Regions from separate parts of the Homo sapiens genome. Here region 2 is linked to region 1. The links come from fine-mapping of genetic effects on gene expression. Tissue or cell type: whole blood. Region 1 holds a variant in brackets; the other region holds the start of a gene. All regions are shown on one strand. Distances are from middle to middle.

Evidence for each region. PIP is the estimated chance that this variant, and not a neighbour inherited with it, causes the effect.
Region 2: it holds the start of CDO1, and the variant in region 1 is fine-mapped to the expression of CDO1 in whole blood (INTERVAL, PIP above 0.99). The same link has a PIP of 0.9 or more in T cells and blood mononuclear cells.

The regions. Positions count from the first base shown.
Region 1 is chr5:115,792,682-115,797,018 of GRCh38, reverse strand. No RefSeq gene overlaps it. Among named protein-coding and RNA genes, the nearest start is that of CDO1, 22 kb to the left of the region's middle. The variant G/A (reference allele first, on the strand shown) is at 1,810.
Region 2 is chr5:115,814,965-115,819,127 of GRCh38, reverse strand. It overlaps CDO1 (cysteine dioxygenase type 1), which reads left to right and starts at 2,469. Exons shown (of 5, transcript NM_001801.3): 1 at 2,469-2,900. The coding sequence starts at 2,731. LOC124901049 (a long non-coding RNA gene) reads right to left here and starts at 2,040. Exons shown (of 2, transcript XR_007058908.1): 1 at 1,957-2,040.

The sequences.
Region 1 (4,337 bases):
CCTGCCCAATAGAGCCAGGTTTGCACTTAGATCTTAGCACCCCTCAATCCTCCACAAACACACACAGCTTGCCCACCCCGTACTCTGGACAAATAGAACTTTGCTACCTCACTGGTTCTGCTCTGCCTCCTCATTCTGTCTAAAATGCACTCTGCCCCAGTTCCCTGCCCTCTGGGGACATAGCGGCTCCTTTCCAAGGCCCAGCTCAAATATCAATTATTTCAGAAGTTGCCTCAGTGGGAGGCAATCTGTCTACCTTTGGGCTCCCATAGAATTTTATTTTCACTTTCTTATAGCACTTGCCACATTCTGCTCTGTTACAGGAATTAGTTTGTGTTTGCTCTGGTATGAGTTAATACGTTCCTGAGGTACCAATTCTTGCATTGAGTTGTGGCAAGACAATTTTAAAAATTAATTTCATTTTTTAAAATTAACAAGTGATAATTGTACATACTCTTAAGGCACGTGGTAATATTTTGATACATATCATGTATAAGTGATCAGATCAAGGTAATTAGCATATCCATCATCCCAAACATCATTTCTTTGTGTTGGGAACATCAATATCCTCCTTCTAGCTATTTGAAACTATATATTATTGTTAACTATAATCATCCTACAGTGTTGTAGAACTCTAGAACTTATCCCTTCTACTTTGCTGTTATTTTGTATCCTGCTTTTTGAAAATAATTAATTATTTTATTTTTGAGACAAGGTCCTGCTCTGTCAGTCAGGCTGGCATGCAGTGGTGCAATCATAGCTCACTATAGCCTCAAACTACTGGGCTCAAGTGATCTTCCCACCTTAGCCTCCCAAGTAGCTGGGGCTACAGGTGCGTACCACTGTACCTGGCTATTTTTTCTTTTTAATTTTTTTGTAGTGATGGAGGTCTTGCTATGTTGCCCAGGCTGGTCTTAAACTCCTGGGCTCCAACAATCCTCCTGCTTCAGCTCCCCAGAGTGCTGAGATTACAGGTGTGAGCCATCACACTTGGCCTTACCTAAGGTATTTTTAAAAGTCAAAAACCAAGTAACAGCAGTTACAGGGGATGGTATGCAGCTGACACATTCTGTTAAGTGCTATCCTATCCTGCTTTGGTGTGAAGGCCACTGCTGGAGGGGACAGAGCATGCCATTGTCAAGTGTAAGAAACCACTAGGGGAGTGTCTAAAAATGCAGTTTCCTGGACTCACCTCCAGAGAGTCCAAGTCTGTGGGTCTAGGATGAAGACCAGAAATACACACTTTTAACAACGGTCCCCAGAAATCTGGGGGATTCTGATGCTGAAGGTCTACAGAGAACACTTGAAGAAATATCATGCTCATGACTATTATTGGGAGTTTCTTCTACTATAATTCATATGCCTAAATTATTTCTTAGTAACTTTTTGGAACTTTATTCTATTTCTCCTTTGACTTTGTTTCCTAGCCTGCGCCAAACCTCTACAAGGAGCAGAAAGAACACTCAGCCAAGAGTCCTGAATTCTAACCTTGCTCTGTCATTAACTTGTACTGGGCTATTAGGCTTCTAGCTTCTTTGGGCCTCAGTTTCCTTATCATTCAATTAAAGGATTAAAAACAAAAACTGAACTCCATAGAACCCTAGGATTCCCTAGATGTGCCCCAGACCCAAACATTTAGTGAGGGGTGAAGGATAGACTAAGTGGTCTTGTATTAGGGCCTCCCAACCCTCCAACTCCTCTAGCAACCAAACCAGCCGGGCTTTGAAATTTTACTGTACATCTTGGGATTTCAATAATGGTTTTGCCTGCCTAATTACTTCTTTTTTTTAATCCACAGGATTTAAAGAG[G/A]TCTTTAAAGAATCCCTTTGATCTCTGCTGTCTCTAATTTCAGAAACTCTGGCACATGTCTTTTTTGTGGGATTTTTCCACTCCACCATTCACTTAATCTTAATTAATGGGAGTCATGAATCCTTTCAGTACCTCAACCTCTGGCCAAAGGAGGAACTTTGTCTGCTCCCACCAAGAAGCAGGTGCCTCACCCTTTCCTGTTAACAGGTGACTACTGTGCCTGCACATAACCACCACTGCCCAATCTAGGAGGATGTCTCTCTCCCTTATTTGCTGATTGTGGCTGCCCAGCCCAAGGGGTTTCCTGCTAGGGTGATAACACATTGTTCTTGAACAGAGAGAAATAACTTAGAGGGATCATCCTAGACCCACAGACTTGGACTCTCTGGAGGTGAGTCCAGGAAACTGCATTTTTAGACAATCCCCTAGTGGTTTCTTACACTTAATCTGTGGTAGCCAATTTTATTAGTCTGGGGAGGAAAGATTCCCTTCTGGGAAGTGTGTTGTATTGAGAGCCAGGAGCATGAGTGGTTAACGTGGGCATTGTGACAATCAATGCTACTGGGGAATCCACTCAAGAATCATTTAAGCCTAATTGCCAGAGAAGGAAAGTGCTCCATCTGTTTTTTTCTCAGTCTCCACCAGAGTAACCACTTCCCCACCATTTCACCCCCATTAACACTGATGTTCCTGATAAATAACTTCATAGTTGTGGTGTGGACAGAGACAACAGACTGTTCAGAGAACAAAGAGAGTATTTACAAGGTAGATTTCCACTCTGAGAGGCAACACAACATCTTAGGACAAGATGATCCCTCTAAGTTATTTCTCTCTGTTCAAGAACAATGTGTTATCACCCTAGCAGGAAACCCCTTGGGCTGGGCAGCCACAATCAGCAAATAAGGGAGAGAGACATCCTCCTAGATTGGGCAGTGGTGGTTATGTGCAGGCACAGTAGTCACCTGTTAACAGGAAAGGGTGAGGCACCTGCTTCTTGGTGGGAGCAGACAAAGTTCCTCCTTTGGCCAGAGGTTGAGGTACTGAAAGGATTCATGACTCCCATTAATTTAAGAATCAGGGGACACTCTTTCATGTGTATAAATAAGGAAAGTGCAGTACAAAGAAACATCTGCTATCTCTGGACATATCAGAAGACACATATGGTACCTGCCCCAGATTGCCAGCATCATCCTATGCTGGGAAGCACTCTGTCCCCCTTGTCAAATTCCTTCTCTAGAAAACACAGCCTAGCAGCCAAAAACATTTATCTGACCCTGGTCTAACTTGTCCCCACAGCCATCTTAATCACTTCTTGGCCAATAGGACATGTATTATTATCACAGGCAGCCCCTAAGTTGGCTGTCAGATTGTCACCAACAGAAAAATAAATACCTACAGCTCATATATATATATATATATATATATATATATATATATGCACACACACATATATATATATAACTTGCTGATATATAATTAAAATGTTTTTATCCATAATACAATAAAATTTGCCTAAATGTCAGAGAACTCTATTAGCAAACTAAGCTTTGGGGTTAAATAACTTGTAGAAAGTGTGCTTTGGGTGAAATCAATTCAATAAATAAAACAATGTATTTATTCCACAGACATCTGTTAGTCCCTCTGAGGTGCTAGACCTTGTGCAAGGAGTTGTAGCAAATCTAAAAAGAACAAGCCTCCATCCTGAAAAGGAGTATAACACACACACACACACACACACACACACACACACACACACACACGATAAGTACCAAACCAAAAAGAATAATGATAAATGTCATGAAAGAGATATGAACTGAGGACTATGGGACCTGAGAATGGGGAGCTTTTCTGCCTAAAGGATGGGTTGGATCTTTACATGTAGACCTGAAGGACAGGGTATTGTAGGGAGATGGAAAGTCTTAAGGTGGCCAAGGCTCACATACTTCTGTGTCTCATTCATTTAAGAAGGCTTTACTAGTTTGGAAAGTTGTGAATCCAATTTGACTAGAGGGCATAGTGGGAGTGGAAGGCTGAGTGGAAAAGCAGTGGGCAAAGGCTGAAGACTTTGGGTTTCATTCTGTAAACAATAAAGAGAGATCCAGACATAATAGTGATGTGATCAGAGCTGAGCATTAGGAAATTTTACCTGGTTCTTTGTGTAAGTTTGTTGGAAGGAGAGAACTGAAGACATGAAAGTCATTTCAGAGGTCCCTGCAGGAGCTTTGACAGGAAGATCTGGACTAGGAGTTAGCAGTGGAAATGGACAGAAAACAAGGGGACAGAGGAGCCATTGCAGAGGCAGGATTCACAGGATCTGATTGTGGATTGGCTGAAGAGAGAAAGTGATCAAAGATTACTGTGAAATCCCCACCAGGCTCCAAGGAGAAGGAATCTTATACATTTGACCCAGATAAGTCAGGAAGGAACACATCTTGGGAAGATAAAGTGAAGTTTGATGTTGGGCAGTGTCATAGGGAAATAGAATTTATGAACTGGTCTGATTTATACTAATTCTGTTATCAAACTCA
Region 2 (4,163 bases), 22 kb before region 1:
TGAGCTTTCGCTCGCTTTTCACCACTGCTGTTTGCCACTGTCACAGACCCGCCACCGACTTCCACCCCTCCAGATCCGGCAGGGTGTCCGCTGCTTTGCTGATCCAGCGAGGCACCCATTGCCACTCCCGATCCGGCTAAAGGCTTGCCATTGTTCCTGCATGGCTAAGTGCCCGGGTTCGTCCTATTTGAGCTGAACACTAGTAGCTGGGTTCCACGGTTCTCTTCTGTGACCCACGGCTTCTAATAGAGCTATAACACTCACCGCATGGTCCAAGGTTCCATTCCTTGGAATCCATGAGGCCAAGAACCCCAGTTCAGAGAACAAAAGGCTTGCTGCCATCCTGGGAGCGGTGGCCACCATCTTGGGAGCTCTAAGAACAAAGACCTGCCCATAAGAATTAGAGATATAGAAAATGAAGAACACAATGCAATATCAGCACACCTCTATTTGGCCAAAATTGGTAAAACTGACAATACCTGGCGAGGATGCGGGGCAACTAGAACTCATACATCACTGTTGAGAATGTGAAATGGCACAGACCCTTTGCAAATTAGTATGTCAATTTCTTGCAAATTTAAACATGCACTGACTAAATGGCCCAGCAATCTCACTCCTAGGTATTTACTCAGGTGAAATGAAAATTTCTATTCACCCGAAAAAACATTTGTTGAATAAATTAATGAATGAATAATAAACGAATGGAGCTATCATAATGTAAAATGACTAGATAATATCTAAAATTGCTGAAACAAAAAAAAATATAAGCCTATTTTTGGAAAAAGGAAGTAACTACCACAAGGAATAGTTAGAAGAGTTAAGAGACTGACTCTTTAAGCACAGGACAGATGGTCAGGAATGGTTAAAAGGGCCTGCTGCTTTTCATTGACCTTCCAGTACTATTGATTTTTTTTAACTACGTGAATATATTACTTTCATAAAAATGTAAAAAGAAAAAGAGGAGTCAGAGAAAGAAAATGAATTGTCAGAAAAATTTAGAAGTTTTATCAACTGAAATGCAGAAAAGATAAATTGTGCTTGCATTTCATTTTTGTTGTTCATTCCAAACATTTATGGATTAGACTAGCTGAAATGAAGTAATTAAGAGACTCAATAGAAAACATTGCCAAGAATAAAAAATAATTTGAGGAAACCATGAAAAGTTTACAGGTTACTCTGTCACAAAATACTTTGTTAATTCACTACCCCGCAGCAACACACATCACCAAGGCTGGCTTCTGGAATGCTTTCTACTTGTAGCCATTTTTGAACAATAGGTGATTCCGCTTTTAACAACACTGTTAGAATATAATGTAGCGAGTTTTACCAGAGATGTTTAAGACTACCTGGCACAAGTAAATTTCATTGTATACATGTATATACACGAGGGAGGGTGATCATAGTCTAGAAAAAAACAGGTCTTCAGAAGTCTAGAACTTTAATAACCTTAAATCCAAATTATTCCCTGCGTCCATCCATAATGAGAAGGAAGAAATCTACACTTGCATTTCTTCCACCTTTCACATCTTTCTCATTTAAATCCTACTGTACTTGATTTGTGTTGTTCCCAACGTACTAGGTGCTATGCATGACGTAGAAACGTGTTTCCTTATATGTATGTACTAGCAGGCTCCTTCAAGCACATGCCTAAGGTTGAAAGATTCAAATATAATTATAGCCTCTTAAATTATTGCGTCAGAGCCCGCCCTATCCCCTCAGAAAAAGCCCCCTTTTACACCATCAAATGAAATATCAGGTTATTTGCACTGGATATTTTTTAAAAGAAAATATTTGATTTTAAAATCAAAGAGTTCTTGGTTTTCCATCATTTCACTAATTGTCTTACTAGAGACCCGAGTCTCCTTTGTCAAAATATATTTCAGTACGCATTTTAAAAAATATGTGTGTGTGTATACTTAAATATATATATATATAAAGTCTTGGACTTATTTTCACCTAGCCTGGGGCATATCGTGGATAGTTTCAATCGACAAAACAGGCACTCTCTGGCCTAGGAGTGGAATCCATCCTCAATTTTCGCAGGCTCCTCACAATTCTCTATTTGGAAGAAGTGTCCCTCTCCTTCCCTTTTCTTTTCCTCCTTTACTCAGCGTCAGTCCCCGCAGCCATCTCCTCCGACCCTTTTTGTCTACGTCCCAGCGTCGCGAACCACAGCGGCGGAGGTGGAGCGGGGAGAGGCGTTAGGCCGGGCGGCTAAAACGCGCCGTTAAAGTGGGGGAGAGATTGCGCGGAGCCCACGCGATCCCTGGGACGCCGGAGACAACGGGGCTCTTGGGAAGGCGCGGAGCCCGGGGAAGCCGGGGATGTGCGCGTGAGCCGTGCCCGCAGGGTCTCCCCGCCTCCGCCACCTTTCTTGGGTGGCTCTCCGCCTCGTCCTCCCTCCGAGGGCCGTTGGTACATTCCTAGTGACTCCAAGCGCTTAAAAGGGGCCCGGGAGGATGAACCCCACAGATCTGAACCTGATTTGTGTGTGCACCGCGTCTCCAGCGATCCCGGATCCACTGCGCTGCCAGGGGCCTGGGGGTGGGTCTCTTGCTGTCTCTGCGACGACATCCTTACGTTTCGGCACTCTAATGCTGGGTTTGTGCGTGTGTGTCTGCTTAGCGGTCTAGCGGGCTGTTAGGCTCCCTCGCCCCCAGCTCCTTGGCTCGCTCAGCTCCTCCACCGCAGCCCAGCAGTGAGACGCGCGCGCAGCCAGCTCCCCACGAGATGGAACAGACCGAAGTGCTGAAGCCACGGACCCTGGCTGATCTGATCCGCATCCTGCACCAGCTCTTTGCCGGCGATGAGGTCAATGTAGAGGAGGTGCAGGCCATCATGGAAGCCTACGAGAGCGACCCCACCGAGTGGGCAATGTACGCCAAGTTCGACCAGTACAGGTGAGCGCGCTGCAGCTTCAATGCCAGGCGGCGCCCACTCGCCCCGTCTGAGGAGGAATGGACGTGGGGGACGCAGCCCAAAGTGACTGGCTCGGGAAGCTCGGGCCGCGCTGCGTCCGCCGCTCGCCCCCTCGCTGGCCAGCCGCGGGGCTGGCACGACTCGCTTGGGGCTCCGCGGCCACAGCGCAGGCGGAAGGTGGATCCTACTGGCCTTGCTGACCTCCGGCCGGGAACGGCGGACAGGCGCCGGGAAGGGAGGCCACCGCGCGTCTGCGAGATTTTCTGTTCTCTTCTCTCCCGCAAACCCCTCTGCTTCTAAACCACCAGTCCTCCTGCCCCTGGCCTCGGGAGCAATGCCCACACTCCCAAGCCATCGTTAACCCCGGGCGCGGAGATGCGGAGAGACCGCACTCAGGTTCGGGCCCTCCTGACACCTTAAGGAACCGTCTGGCCGGACTAGCAGAGGGTGCTCCCAGGGGAGCACTACATCAGCCATCGGGAGAAGTGTGTGATGTTGAAGAAGACAAGTCACCCGCGTCAGTTCTCCATCACTGCGCCTTCGGTCGCCTGCAACCGGGCACCTTATAGCAAGCATTTTTACTCATGTAAAATAGCGTCTTGTGGCCGTCAGCTGCCACTACGGAATTTCTGCTGTTCCCTTTCCCAAACCAATTTAACTAACTTCCCCGACTGTGGGTTTATTCAAATCCACTGCCAAGTTTCGCAGATTAAATATTCGACCGTCGTTTTTTTCAGCCCCCAAATGATCTGATTTATCTTATCCTTGCTTCTGACGATCTGTAATGTAAATTAAAGACCCCTACTTCCCAGATGTACTTGAGTGAGGTGCCCTGGTAAGCTGGCTTTTTTGCAGCCCCGGCTTGGTGATTAAGTCGAATCTCTCTACCAATCCTCCGGGGCCAGAGGTAAAATTTAATCACCCCGAAGTGTGAGAGGTTCTACTTTTTCTGAGCAGTTAGTGCGTCAGTCTTTGTGGTTTTTTGGGTTTAGGGTTAGGAGAAAGGGGTAAGTGAAAGAAAAGAATAAGGAAAGAAGTAAGTTTGTTTTTCTTGGGAGCAGGTTCTTTTAGTCACTCTTCAACATGTGGGATGTTTCGTAAAGTTTTGTTGGCATGGGCGGTTTCAACTGTATTTTAGGATTTGAAATAGAAAAAGTGAAGACCACTAAGGATCCCATTTTTCATATACAAGTGACTTGAGGAAATTCCTTTGGCTCCTATCAGCTTAGTTCATGGTAGAGCCC